Homo sapiens: one gene and its partner. The protein of the gene in region 1 binds, or shares a complex with, the protein of each later gene. Each region holds a gene or a part of one and is shown on either strand. Other genes may lie near its edges. The genes, in order: ARPP19 and PPP2CA. A codon is read from its position in the direction of its gene.

The links.
Region 2: the proteins of ARPP19 (region 1) and PPP2CA are in contact, whole or in part, in a cryo-EM structure (PDB 8TTB), measured with the Homo sapiens proteins. Residues at the interface, in NP_001293124.1 of Homo sapiens: Phe60, Asp61, Ser62, Gly63, Asp64, Tyr65, Asn66, Met67, Lys69, Ala70, Lys73, Ile92, Pro93, Thr94, Pro95, Leu98, Arg101; in NP_002706.1 of Homo sapiens: Arg89, His118 (codon at 92), Gln122 (codon at 104), Gln125 (codon at 113), Val126 (codon at 116), Tyr127 (codon at 119), Tyr130 (codon at 128), Asp204 (codon at 1,611), Asp205 (codon at 1,614), Pro213 (codon at 1,638), Arg214 (codon at 1,641), Gly215 (codon at 1,644), His241 (codon at 1,722), Gln242 (codon at 1,725), Leu243 (codon at 1,728), Met245 (codon at 1,734), Tyr265 (codon at 2,924), Arg268 (codon at 2,933), Cys269 (codon at 2,936).

The regions. Positions count from the first base shown.
Region 1 is NC_000015.10:52,558,767-52,566,299, reverse strand, and holds part of ARPP19 (cAMP-regulated phosphoprotein 19), read left to right. Parts: intron 1-2,053; coding exon of another isoform or gene 2,054-2,110; intron 2,111-7,533. UniProt on the Homo sapiens protein: Protein phosphatase inhibitor that specifically inhibits protein phosphatase 2A (PP2A) during mitosis. Inhibition of PP2A is enhanced when ARPP19 is phosphorylated.
Region 2 is NC_000005.10:134,195,074-134,202,073, reverse strand, and holds part of PPP2CA (serine/threonine-protein phosphatase 2A catalytic subunit alpha isoform), read left to right. Parts: intron 1-52; coding exon 53-226; intron 227-999; coding exon 1,000-1,089; intron 1,090-1,566; exon of another isoform or gene 1,567-1,577; coding exon 1,578-1,739; intron 1,740-2,869; coding exon 2,870-2,988; intron 2,989-4,229; coding exon 4,230-4,302; 3' UTR 4,303-7,000. UniProt on the Homo sapiens protein: Catalytic subunit of protein phosphatase 2A (PP2A), a serine/threonine phosphatase involved in the regulation of a wide variety of enzymes, signal transduction pathways, and cellular events.

The DNA of each region.
Region 1 (7,533 bases):
ATAATCCCAGCTACTCGGGAGACTGAGGCATAAGAATTGCTTGAACCCAGGAGGCAGAGGTTGCAGTGAGCTGAGATCATACCACTGTACTCCTGCCTGGGCAACAGAACAAGATTCTGTGTCAGAAAATAAATAAAATAAAATTTGGCCGGGCACGGTGGCTCACACCTGTAATCCCAGCGCTTTGGGAGGCCGAGGCTGGCGGATCATGAGGTCAGGAGTTCGATACCAGCCTGGCCAATATGGGGAAACCCCCTCTCTACTAAAAAATACAAAAATTATCCGGGTGTGGTGGCACGCACCTGTAGTTCCAGCTACTCAGGAGGCTGAGGCAGGAGAATTGCTTGAACCTGGGAGGCGGAGGGTGCAGTTAGCCGAGATCGTGCCACTGCACTCTAGCCTGGGCAACAGAGTGAGACTGCATCTCAAAAAAATAAAATAAAATTTAAACTAAAACAGATTAAATACAACAAAGCCAGTCTAAATTTTTGATTGTGTGCTTGGTATTTTGCTGAAACTAAATTTCCAATGTATTTGGAATATGGCAGCAATTGTTAAAAGTTGAGGGAGTTTTTGAGTTTGTCAAGTAAACACTCCCCTAGGCCATGTGGTGGCTCAGTTCCCCTTTTAAGAGTAAACTATGAGGTCACTAAGTTTCCAGAGTCATAGATACAATCACATTTTAAGTTCAGCTCCATTCTTTTCTCATTTTCTTGGACAGTTGGAGTAACCTGCTGAGTCTTTGTCAAAGAAAGCTCAGATGCAGAACCCACATAGCACTACTTAGATGCAACGTGGTGATTCAGATTCCCCAGAATATGCTTATATTTGCCTTTGAGATAACCACTGAAGTGAAAACAAAACATTTAAAAGTTTTGAGTACAGATCTCATGAATCTATCAGCAGTAAGCTAAGGCATGTGTACTAGTCCTGGAGGGGAGAAGAGGCAAGTGGAAACTTAAAACAGATAATTCTGGCCCTACAGGGTGGCTCTTGCCTGTAATCCCAGCACTTTGGGAAGCCAAGGTGGGAAGATCGCTTGAGGCCAGGAGTTTGAGACCGGCCTGGGCAACATAGCAAAACCCCGTCTCTAAAATAATAAATCTACACCTGTAGTCCCACCTACTCCAGAGGCTGAGGGGAGGATCACTTGACCTCCAGGAGGTCAAAACCACAGGGACCTTTGATGGCACCACAGTGAGCTTTGATGGCGCCACTGGGTGACTGAGGGAGACCCTGTCTCAAAAAAAAAAAAAAAAAAGATGGTAATTTTAATTGCACTGTGAGCAGCTTATGCTCAGGGACCCTGGTTTATATATCTGTTCTCTCACAGCACTCAACATTGTGCTTGACATTATTTACAAAATGGTTGAATGGATTTTCCTCAGAACTTTTCTGTTAAAACCTTTGCCAAAGTACTATTTCAAAACAAATGACAATGCTAGTACCACAGAGAAGAATAGACCATGGTAAGATGAAAACCTTAGCTTAGACCCACTTAAGAACTCTTGAACGAAACTACAGTGATGTGTGTATATATTTTTTCGTTTGTGTTGTGGCCTTAATTTTTTTTTTAAGATCTCAATAGCAAGTTTTCTAGAGGTTATAAGACTCACCAAACTAATATGTCTTGGAAAGGATACCCACAGGAAAGCTGTCAATGAAATTATTTGTCAGGTAAGAGATACAGGTTGGTGCCTTTATGAGTGGTAGAAGAGGAAAAGAACCTTTATCTGCATTATTTTAATATATCAACCATAAAGAGATATAAATTGTTTTCCCATGCTTCCAGTATTTTAAAAATAGGAGTTCATATTGGTATTTTCAGGAGCTCTTTTGACAACTACTTTTGGTTACCTAAAGGCTGAAGAATGTTTTTGTTATGTTTGAGACAGGGTCTTACTCTGTCGCCCAGGCTGGGGTGCAATGGCACAATGATAGCATATTGCCGCCTTGAACTCCTGGGTTCACCTAGCCTCCCACCTCAGCCTCCAAGTAGCTGGGACTGCAGGTGTGAGCAACCGCCTCATCCATGTTTTCTATTTCTATTCAGAGTGAACACAACATGCTCCCTTGGTCTCTGCAACCATCGATTCCTAACAGCCTAGAGGTAAACCTCAGAAAAGTTTTTAAATGTTTCTCTTAGCCGTCTTAGCAGTTTGCGATACAACAGTTTGTTAGGGTTGCTTCTTTTGTTTGTGCAAGACTTGAATACTTAACTTCTAATCCAGAAGCTGTGTTTACTATAACATAAAATATTAAAGATGAGCTGATGGTGAAATCCTCAAGTGTGAAGAAAGTTTCTTAGCTTTATAGCTTTATGGAAACAAGTACATTGTATTTTTTCATTCAGATGAATGAACTTTTATTGAACATTCATTAAATGCTAGGCACTAGGCAAACAAAGACTTAATAGAATGACAACAGTAATTTTCCATAGAGCTTGATACAGTATTGGTACCTTCCTGGCAGTATCCCAAAGGATTTGTTGGCTTTCATTAATCCTTTCTAGTTATTCGTCAATCAGTGCATCAGTCAACATGTTGCTGAGCAGATAGAGGAGAATTTGCTTAGAGTGGTCAGATTTTTATTGCTGACGTTGCTGTATAACCCTCCTCTGCCGAAGGCTGAAAAGTGGTATCAGTCATTGAGACATAATTCTGCTCAGTGTATAATAGACTACAAAATAATCCTTAGTTATTTGAGTGTCCTTTTTACGTGTATATATTTATAACTTATACCCCACCTATTCACAGAAAGGATTTCTGATGTATTTCAGTGGTACAATTCACAAAAATGCACATGCCGAGACAATAACTATTATTAAAAATACTGTTCTTAAGATTTTTGTTTTTGTTTTTTGGATACATACATCGTATACATGTATCTGTGTGTAAACATGTATCTGTGTTACCATATCCTGGGGTTCCTTTCCCAGCTTGTAGCCAATAGCCAAAAGTTCAGAATTCTGCCTTCTGCGGACCCTATTATCAATTTAGAAGCTACTTACCTAAGTAAATCCATTTACATTACAGCATCTATTTTTAAAATGTAGTAAAATTGCTGTGTAACACAAAGGCTTCTTGGAGAATGAAACTTCAAAACCAGATTTGAATCATAAAAAATACTTCTTCACGGTGGCTCACACCTGTAATCCCAGCACTTTGGGAGGCAGAGGCAGATGGATCACGAGGTCAGGAGTTCAAGACCAGCGTGGGCAAGATGGTGAAACCCTGTCTGTACTAAAAATACAAAAATCAGCCAGGTGCGGTGATGGGCACCTGTAATCCCAGCTACTCGGGAGGCTGAGGCAGGAGAATCACTTGAACCCAGCGTGGGGAGGGGTGGAGGTTGCAGTGAGCCGAGATCGTGCCACCACACTCCAGCCTGGGCGACAGAGTGAGACTCTGTCTCAAAAAAAAAAAAAAAAAAAACTTCTTAAGCTTGCCATATCCACCCCCTTTGTTGGCCCTTTCTATTGTATCTTTTTCATTAATTTCTGCTTTTTATTTCTCCATTTTCTTTGGGCTCCTTTCTTTGTCTAACTTCTTAAATTGGATGCATCGCTCATTGAGATTTAGCTTTCTTCTCTGATATAAGCCCTTGAGAGATACTTGCTATACCTGACAAGTTTTGGTATGTGTAGGGTTTTGTTTGTTTGTTTTTAAAGAAACAGGGTCTCACTCTGTCTCCCAGGGTAGGCTTAAGTGACCCTCCCACCTCAGCCTCCCAAGCAGCCAGGACTATAGGCATATAAGCATCTACCACGACACCTATCTAATTTTTAAATTTTTTTTGTAAAGGCCAAGGTCTTACTGTGTTGCCCGGGTAGGTCTAGAACTCCTATTTTTTTTAAATACTCGTGCTTTCTTTTTTAACCAGGAATTATTTAGAAGTATGTTTTTAATTTCTAAATATTAGAGATTTATAATTTTTTTGTTGTTACTGACTTTAATGAATTGCAGTCATAGATGGTGGTCTGGAAGAAAATAGTTAAGATTTGCTTTATGGCCTAGTATTAGTCAGTTTTTCCATTTGTGCTGTGGAAGACTATGCATTCCCTAATTGTTAGATGTAAAATTAAAATCAAGTATCTTAACTACTTTATCTTTTATAGCTATCAATAATTGAGGAAGCTGTGTTGAATTCCATAGTAGTGGACTTGTCAGTTGCTCCCTATAGTTCTGTCAGTTTTTGCTTTGTATATTTTCATGCCATTTTATTAGTGGCACAGTGGCTCACGCCTGCAGTCCCAGCACTTTGGGAGGCCAAGGCAGGAGGATTGCTTGAGGCCAGGAGTTCTAGACCAGCCTGGGCAACATAGGAAGACCATGTATCTTAATAAAAAAAAAAAAAAAAAAAAAAGTAGGTGCACTGCACTAGCTCTGTTTTGGTAAGGATTTTTTGCCTGGTATGTTACCACCACCACCCACCCTCAGTCTTTTTACTTTCAACCTATGTCCTTGTTTTTAGATTTTTTTAAATGTGTACTCCACAAGTGGCTAGGTTTTTTTTTTTTCCTTAATCCAGCCACTGGATTTAAATGGACAGTCTGTTGCTTCAGTATGGTTATTGTGGTTATTAACATATTGGGATTTGTTTCTCCTTATGTTTGGTTTCTTTTTGGTATTTAAAATTTTTTTTATTTTTCTTCCTTTCTTGCTCTCCCCAACACTCCTTTTTATTTCTGCTATTTAATTGGTTCCCCTTGAAATTTTTCATGCATTCTTAACTAAACAAGATGTAAAAATTAAGATTATAAACCCTTTTCTAAATTATACAGGACCATAGAACACTTAAACTAAAAATATGGTACTGTTATAGTATTCTTTTCTTTTTTAACTCCACATGATAAAGATATTAAAATTACAATATTGACTTGTTATCAGTATATGTGTATGTATATACCAATTTTCTTTGTTTAGTAATAGTCATTCCTGTCCTTTATCCCTTACATCCTAACCTATTTAACCCAAAGCTTGATTAGTTTATGATTTAATCTTTCTGTGATTCTTTTTGGAAAAAATAAACAAATAAATAACTATTGGCTTATCTCCCCTTTGTTTTCATTCTAGCTTAAGTAAATGTTTAGGAATTCCCTTGAGGTCCAGAAACGTGGAGTCACATCAAATTGTGTTCTATTTTGCATTTTTGAACATGACTGTGGATAAATCGCTTATTTTACCTGCTTTTATCAGTGTCCTGTTGGGAGACAGGAGCAGAAACCACTTTGCATGTTTTTAAAAAGGAAGGAATATGATTTTTAGGGAATAAGGTTACAAATTATTAGAAGGAATAGAGGAACAAAAGGGAGGAAGATGGTGTTTCCAGAGGTAAGGATTACAGAAAGCCTTTGACCCTGCAAGGATGAGTACTGTTCAGAGTCCACCATCGTCTGCCTCCCTTGTCGTGTAGCTGCTACTAGAGCCCCTGTTTATCTGCCATATGTCCCTCTGTAGGAGCTCACAGGGGCGACTGCTGTCTGCTGTTGGTGGTGGCATCACCAGGAGCAGAATGGATTCTTTCTCTCATGCCTTTTAATCTGGCATAGATGCCGTTGACAGAACCTAATAAGAACTCAGTAACTGTCAGAATATTAATGCATGTCCAAGCACTTGAACTAACTTATCATTAAGGTCCTAGAACTGCCTAGCTCTGTAGAATGTTTCTGTAGGATTCATGAAAACTTTTGTGGAAGTCTTAATGGTGTTTACCACATTTAAAAATCTAGATTAGGTCATCTTTTCCCCCCTGTTAAATCCAACTGAAATTCTGAATCCAGTTAGGAAGTTGCAGCTAGCAGGGGCTTTCAGTTGTGCTATGTATTTGGCAAGAAAGTTCAAGAATCGGCTTGTTTTTTTCTAAGACATGTTATAAATTCATTCTAAATATAAATGACATTTGCAGCTCATAGATGCTGTTTTACCCAAACATTTTTTAATTTAATTAAGCATGCTTAATATGATATATCAATGTATTCCTTATTAAGAAAACAAGGGAATGCGGCTGGGCCCAGTGGCTCATGCCTGTGATCCAGCACTTTGGGAGGCCGAGGCGGGCAGATGACCTGGGGTCAGGAGTTCGAGACCAGCCTGGCCAACATGGCAAAAAAAAAAGAAAAAGAAAATAAGGGAATGCCCGGATTGTGTACAAGGTATTTTCCTTTATATATCAAATGGAGGAAACCTGCAGAAACACTGGAAACCAGAGTAAGTTGCTACCTACATACAATTTTCCTTTAAAAATTTTTAAGGAATTCGGGGAACTATTAGACTTGGAGAACTATTTCAAATCAAAGGAAGAAGTGGAGAGCTCTCACTTCCTAGGCTCAAGAAAGCTGAATTTTTATTGGAAATGTAGGACTCCAGTAACACCCTTAATTTGAAGGTGCAGGGACTAAAGGGTGACAATTAGCTTGGGATCCTTTTCAGCCAAAATTATTTGAAGCCAGCTGTGCAGGGAAACCCAAGAGTAGGCCTCTCCTCCCACATCCACTTCTAAACTGCAGCACTGAGAACACCCTTGGGCTGCAGTAGATATCTGCAGTGAGGGCTGAGCCACATCGAAGCTGTGCAGTGACTCAGCCCGCCTTCCTACATTAAACTTGGTAATCTTACATTTATGTTTATTTCTCTGGCTTTGGTGATGAATATGGTATAGTCATATCTTACATGGGGTTAGGTTCTAATGTTAGTAAGGGAAAAAAATCACATATAGCTAAAATCACCCTTGACAAAATTCTAGAGAAGGCATAATCATATTGGAGACTGCCCCATCAATTCTCAGTAGAGCAGGTAGTCACTTTTATGTCCAGCGTTTGAACAGATGGCTAGATGGCTAGGGTGATTCTTAAGTTGAGTGCTAGCTAAGGTAATAGGCTTGTATTGTACGGGCTGAGATTTTAAACACTGCAATGATAAACAGCATGTTGATGTACTTATGCTCTGCAAGATACCCAACGAGAGACTAACGTGGGAATGGCAGGTTTGCATCACATACCTCACACTTACCTCTCTGGAGCATACCCTTCTTGAATGGAATGACTGGTAGACTCACCACTATTTAAATTCTCTATTTCTGGCTAAGTGCACATAATTGAATGTCGTGCATGTCAAGTGAGTGAATGACGTGGCCACTGTAAAGAGATAACATAAATGGATGAATCTGCAACATAAAAAGAGGCTCCACAGAAAACAGTATTTGACAGAAGCAGCTTTTTTCTCAAAATTCTCCGAGACTGAAAATGAGAAGATCTAACAACAAATGAAGAAGCAGTTCAGGATGAAATACTGATAATATATAAAGTGAATGAAGCTGATTATAAAACATGTATGAGAGCTGGATGTGGTGGTGCATGCCTATAATCCCAGCACATTGGGAGGCTGAGGTGAGAGGATAGCTTTGAGGCCAGGAGTTCAAGACCAGTTTGGGCAATATGGCCTGACCTGTAATTTTTTCCCCCCCGTGGGTACAAAGGGAAGGGAAACAGGATCTTCATCTTTTTTTTTTTTTTTTAATGTATGAATATAATTT
Region 2 (7,000 bases), on another chromosome or scaffold:
CATTGGTTTTTGAAAGAGCTAGTTGTTTATGTTTTGCATTTTATTGTTTTAGGTTCGTTACCGTGAACGCATCACCATTCTTCGAGGGAATCATGAGAGCAGACAGATCACACAAGTTTATGGTTTCTATGATGAATGTTTAAGAAAATATGGAAATGCAAATGTTTGGAAATATTTTACAGATCTTTTTGACTATCTTCCTCTCACTGCCTTGGTGGATGGGCAGGTATGTGGATCTAAAACTCATTGCTGATTATTTCAGAGAATCTGCTTTCTTTAGTGTTCAGGTGCTTATGACTCTTTCCACTCTTAACACCCCTTTGGGGATATTTTTTAATAGATATTGATAGCATTCATTCAAACTTAAAAAAAATTTAATTTGACAAATGTGTCCAACTTTTTTAAGTGCATTATTCTTTATATCAGGCACTGAACTGTATGGTGGGATCACAGGGGTGGGTGATGTAGCCCATTTACCCTCTCAGACTGTTTTTGGACAAGTCTGGGAGATGTAAGGAGCTAATTATTGGCCTAGGTAGATGTGCACACAAAAGAACTTACAATAAAATTTTATGAGTATGAAGATACTAGTCTCTGGCAAAGGGCAGGAGTGATATCCAAGAAGTTTTCTCAAAGGAGCTGTTTGAAGTGGAGTCTGGTTGTGACAGCGATGGTCTATTAGGAAGAACAGGAGTGTACTCAATAGTTCAGAGTGGGCTGGAGCAAAGATGAACCCTGCAAAGTCAAGTCTCATTCAGGCAGAGCACAGAAACACCAGAGGGGCCAAGTGATGGGGGTGCCCAGCTCATTTTTTAAAATTTTTGTAGAGACACAGGGTCTTGCTGTGTTGCTCAGGTTGGTCTCAAACTCCTGGCCTCAAGCAGCCCTCCTGCCTCAGCTTCCCAAAGTGCTGGGGTTACAGGCATGAGCCACTGTGCCCAGCCAAGAATGTTTACAAATTTTTTAGGTGAGGTTAACCTTTTAAACCACTCTTTTCAGATCTTCTGTCTACATGGTGGTCTCTCGCCATCTATAGATACACTGGATCATATCAGAGCACTTGATCGCCTACAAGAAGTTCCCCATGAGGTATGACTTTTATTTGATAAAATTCTTTCAGAAAACTTATTAGGGAGTGGAGAAGTTTAATTGTAAGTTCATTAGATGTATTCTCTCATATAATTCTCAAAAACAACTTGAGGTGTGAGCACTCTTGTCTGCCCTGTTGTTCAAAAGAAGCTGACATTAAGAAACCTGCCAAGATCACAACAGCTGTGAAGCTGGGCTTATTAGGACCTGGGTTGTCTGTCTTAGACTCTGAAATTTGCATAATATAGGCAGATTAATTAGGGCATGTTGCTGCTGGGTCCCATGGATGTCAGCTGTGTCTCATAAAGTCTGCTGGAAAATACATCTTATTTGATGCAGATGTTTGACTTCAACTGCACAGTCTATTAGCATTGTCCACAAACATCACTCAAAAAGGGTGGCTTAGGGTGCTGCTTCTGATGAATTACTCAAATAATGTGTTAACCATGTTTGTAAAAGGCATTTTATAACTTGAAGTTATTTTTTAGGGTCCAATGTGTGACTTGCTGTGGTCAGATCCAGATGACCGTGGTGGTTGGGGTATATCTCCTCGAGGAGCTGGTTACACCTTTGGGCAAGATATTTCTGAGACATTTAATCATGCCAATGGCCTCACGTTGGTGTCTAGAGCTCACCAGCTAGTGATGGAGGTATGCTGTGTTCTCTGAAATATGACTTGTTTTTTTAGTAAACTTAAGGAAAGAAGATATTAGGGAGTTTTAAATTAATGACATTTGTGAGAAATTCCATCTATTCCTTCTGATGAGTTTATCATTATAGCCTGAGCCTTTTCAGTAGATGCACACTACTAGAATTAAAAGCTCAAGCTTTTGATTACAATGAATCCATTAACATGTTTTCAGAGAAATCTGAATGACTAGGAAGTACTTGAGATTTAAGAGTGGGAAAGTAAGATATAGGGAGTTGGTGTGCATGTATGATATTTTATGATCCCAATGTTATTTCGTATATTTAATGTATGTATGTAGGAGAGACTGGAAAGAAATACACGAAAATGTTTTAAGTGGTCCTTTGGATGCTAGGATTACAGGTGATTTGAAAGAAGGGAAAGAGGCAAAGGTTCTTGACATGGCACACTGATTAGAATATTTTTAAAATAAGGTCCTAATTAGATTAATACTAGTACAACTCTGTGGTTATCAATAAAATCTGACTTTGCTAAAGGTAAAGAAATTGTGAACAATACTAAACAAAAAGTAACAAAAGTAGCTCATGCATTCAGGTGGATGGACTTTGAGGAAATGAGGCTGGAGATCCTAGAGGCATATTGCATTTGTTCCTGGGCAGTGACCAACTTAACAGGCCTTTACCTGTGACTGACAAAATTGGTAAGGTTCTGGTCTCCAGGATTAAGTATCTACTTCTCTAGGGAATGGCCACTTAAATACTTATTCTTAAATCATGTTTTAAGGCCACTGCAAGAGAAGAGGCTAATGAGACATTGTCATTTACAGCAAGGCAGATACATGAGAAGTATTTCATTCTTTGGTGGTTGCTGCTGTTTGTTAAAGCCTTTTTTTTTTTAAAGTACTAAAAAAAAAACAAGTTTTGTAATTAGGGGGAAAATAAATACATGTGTACCTTACAGGTTGTATAAAGTACAGGAGATTATTAAGTCATCCAGAAAAAAAGCATTAACATTTCTTAAGCCCCTTTGGCAGGGGTGGGAATGAGTAGAGATTTTTTTCTCTCTTGAGTGAAGTAACATTTAGTTGAATTGAGGGAGTAAAGTAAGATTTTTGTCTCCTTTTCCTTGCAGGGATATAACTGGTGCCATGACCGGAATGTAGTAACGATTTTCAGTGCTCCAAACTATTGTTATCGTTGTGGTAACCAAGCTGCAATCATGGAACTTGACGATACTCTAAAATACTCTTTGTAAGTAATTCTACCTGAACATTTTCTTGCATTACTGAATATGTAGGGTTTTGGTTTATTTATTTTGAGAGAGAGGGTGTCACTATATTGCCCAGTCTTGTCTCGAACTCCTAGGCTGAAGTGATCCTTTCACCTTGGCCTCCTAGAGTGTTGGGGTTACAAGTATAAGATACAGTGCCCAGCCTGAATACATAGTTTAAATGTGAGGTTTAAGAGTTTAAGGGGGCCAGGCGCGGTGGCTCATGCCTGTAATCCCAGTACTTTGGAAGGCTCGGGTGGATCACCTGAGATCAGGAGTTCGAGACAAGCCTGACCAACATGGTGAAACCCCTTCTCTACTAAAAATACAAAAATTAGCCCAGCATGGTGGCGCCTGCCTGTAATCCCAGCTACTCAGGAGGCTGAGGCAGGAGAATGGCATGAATCCGGGAGGCAGAGGTTGCAGTGAGCCAAGATCGCGCCACTGCGTTCCAGCCTGGGCAACAGAGCGAGACTTCGTCTCAAAAAAGTGTTTATTAAGGGATTATGCTATGTCAGATTCCAACTTTTATTTTTAAGTTTTGTTTTTTTTTTAATGGATCTACATTGAAACACACCAACAGGAACTTATTATATATAGATCTTCGTATGAATTACTAGGTTTTTCACTTTTAAAACCATGTTTTGTGTTTTTTTGTTGTTTGTTTGTTTTTTGAGACGGAGTCTCACTCTGTCACCCAGGCTGGAGTGCAGTGGTGCGATCTTGGCTGACTGCAAGCTCTGCCTCCCGGGTTCACACCATTCTCCTGCCTCAGCCTCCCGAGTAGCTGGGATTACAGGCGTCTGCCACCACGCCCGGCTAATTTTTTTGTATTTTTTTAGTAGATATGGGGTTTCACCGTGGTAGCCAGGATGGTCTTGATCTCCTGACCTCGTGATCCGCCCGCCTCAGCCTCCCAAAGTGCTGGGATTACAGGCGTGAGCCACTGCGCCCGGCCAACCATGTTTTGTTTTGTTTTGTTTGAAATTTCAGTCAAGGTAAAAACCATGTTTTTATAAAAGCATAGTCTCTGTGGCTGAAGTTGCCTTGACTCTTTCAAGGGGAGTACAGTTAACAGACCATTATCATTAAGGTTCTGTTACATTAAGACAAGCCAAAATTGAATAGGAAGTGTAAAGTTTGGAAGACTCATGTTCTTGATCTTGATTGTCACTACATGGAGGTCGTGGAACATAAACCATGAATCGGTCTTGTTTTTCAGCTTGCAGTTTGACCCAGCACCTCGTAGAGGCGAGCCACATGTTACTCGTCGTACCCCAGACTACTTCCTGTAATGAAATTTTAAACTTGTACAGTATTGCCATGAACCATATATCGACCTAATGGAAATGGGAAGAGCAACAGTAACTCCAAAGTGTCAGAAAATAGTTAACATTCAAAAAACTTGTTTTCACATGGACCAAAAGATGTGCCATATAAAAATACAAAGCCTCTTGTCATCAACAGCCGTGACCACTTTAGAATGAACCAGTTCATTGCATGCTGAAGCGACATTGTTGGTCAAGAAACCAGTTTCTGGCATAGCGCTATTTGTAGTTACTTTTGCTTTCTCTGAGAGACTGCAGATAATAAGATGTAAACATTAACACCTCGTGAATACAATTTAACTTCCATTTAGCTATAGCTTTACTCAGCATGACTGTAGATAAGGATAGCAGCAAACAATCATTGGAGCTTAATGAACATTTTTAAAAATAATTACCAAGGCCTCCCTTCTACTTGTGAGTTTTGAAATTGTTCTTTTTATTTTCAGGGATACCGTTTAATTTAATTATATGATTTGTCTGCACTCAGTTTATTCCCTACTCAAATCTCAGCCCCATGTTGTTCTTTGTTATTGTCAGAACCTGGTGAGTTGTTTTGAACAGAACTGTTTTTTCCCCTTCCTGTAAGACGATGTGACTGCACAAGAGCACTGCAGTGTTTTTCATAATAAACTTGTGAACTAAGAACTGAGAAGGTCAAATTTTAATTGTATCAATGGGCAAGACTGGTGCTGTTTATTAAAAAAGTTAAATCAATTGAGTAAATTTTAGAATTTGTAGACTTGTAGGTAAAATAAAAATCAAGGGCACTACATAACCTCTCTGGTAACTCCTTGACATTCTTCAGATTAACTTCAGGATTTATTTGTATTTCACATATTACAATTTGTCACATTGTTGGTGTGCACTTTGTGGGTTCTTCCTGCATATTAACTTGTTTGTAAGAAAGGAAATCTGTGCTGCTTCAGTAAGACTTAATTGTAAAACCATATAACTTGAGATTTAAGTCTTTGGGTTTTGTTTTAATAAAACAGCATGTTTTCAGGTAGAGCTTAAACTAAATGATGTGTTTACTTAGTGCAGTTTCTGGTTATGAATATTATATTGCTATGTGTATATTATATGGACTCTTTAAAATGATTGACAGATTGGCAAATTCTTAAATCTTTGTACATTGTTGAGTCATATGTTCTTAGAGTTAAATTTGTCTCAGATAAGAAAGTGTTAAAGCATTAGCCTGTGTCAAGTTCTTTGAGTGATACTAGTGAAACCAAATAGAAAACTATTGTTGGATCATGATTTAGTCTTATGTACATTCACCCGAAGACAAAAATGGTACTTAAAGTGGCAGTGTTCAACATTTAATGAGTTTTTCCCCTTTTATCCTTCGAATAGGATTAGATGTTTAAAAAAAAGTTCTTCTGTGGGAACTAATATTTGATATTTTAACCTACCAGAGTAAACAGGAACACTTAATCATACTTGTGAGTGTAGTAAATAAAAGTTTTCTTGCTTTGTGCTGTGTTGAATCTGGAACCAACAGGGAAGTTATAGCATATCCCCTTTCTAAAATGCTTGAGGAACACATACATACCGAATGTCTTTTCTGATCTAATTGATAGTATTTTTAGTGGCTTGTGGAGTTAATTTTCCAAAGCAAAAGGCCATTAGGGTTTCTACATTTCATTTCATTTCATTCTTTTCTTTCACAAGAAATACATTCTCTGTGTGTCTTTTTGTTGCTCTGTCACTCTATGCCCTTTCTCTCCGACTGAACAAATAGCTTATCCATGTGCAGTGGTTTTAATACCCAAACAATCTAGACACCAAGCAGCTATTTTTTCCGGTCCTGTGATATCAGAATTGACCAAGGAATACGTATATTGTAATTGACACGTGGTGGTATCTTCCAGGTACAAATTCTCTAAATTTTGTGGTTAGCAGAATGGGACTTGTGATAAGAATAGCTTGGTTTTAGCATAACTAGGGTTTAAAATAATTGTTTAATTATAGAGACTGACCGGGCTTTGGCCATCTAAACTGGAAAGTGTTAGTACCCTACCTTCTTTTGAAAATGGCTATGGTAAGGAAAATGTGTTAGTAAATTATGTATTTTCTTGAAAAATACATAATTATGGTTGGATGGGAATCACTAAGTTGGGTGTTAACTGATGTCTCAATTAGTAACATTAGGATTTTCATTAATAAACCTAAAAAGCTTTCCCTAAGAACAGGCCTGGCACAGTGGCTCATGCCTGTAATCCCAGCACTTTGGGAGACCAGGGTGGGTGGATCCCTTGAGGTCAGGAGTTGAAGAGCAGCCTGGCCAACATGGCAAAACCCCATCTCTACAAAAAATATGAAAATCAGCCGGGCTTGGTGGCATACCATAGTCCCAGCTACTTGGGAGGCTGAGGTGAGAGGATCGCCTGAGCCCAGGAGATGGAGGTTGCAGTGGGCTGAGATTGTGCCACTGTACTCCAGTCTGGGTGACAGAGCCAGACCCTGTCTCAAAAATAAAGAGGATTCTGAGTTTGTATAGTGAGGGCTTGCAGAAATTTTGAAACTTATTTTGTAAGTTTACAATGAATTTGTACATGATGTGCTCATGTCTTGGGTTGAGTATCCTAGACATGATTTTTTCATTTGCTGCATATTAAACATTTGTTGGTTGTAGTCGGTATTTCTTAAATAGAAGTTTGTCAAT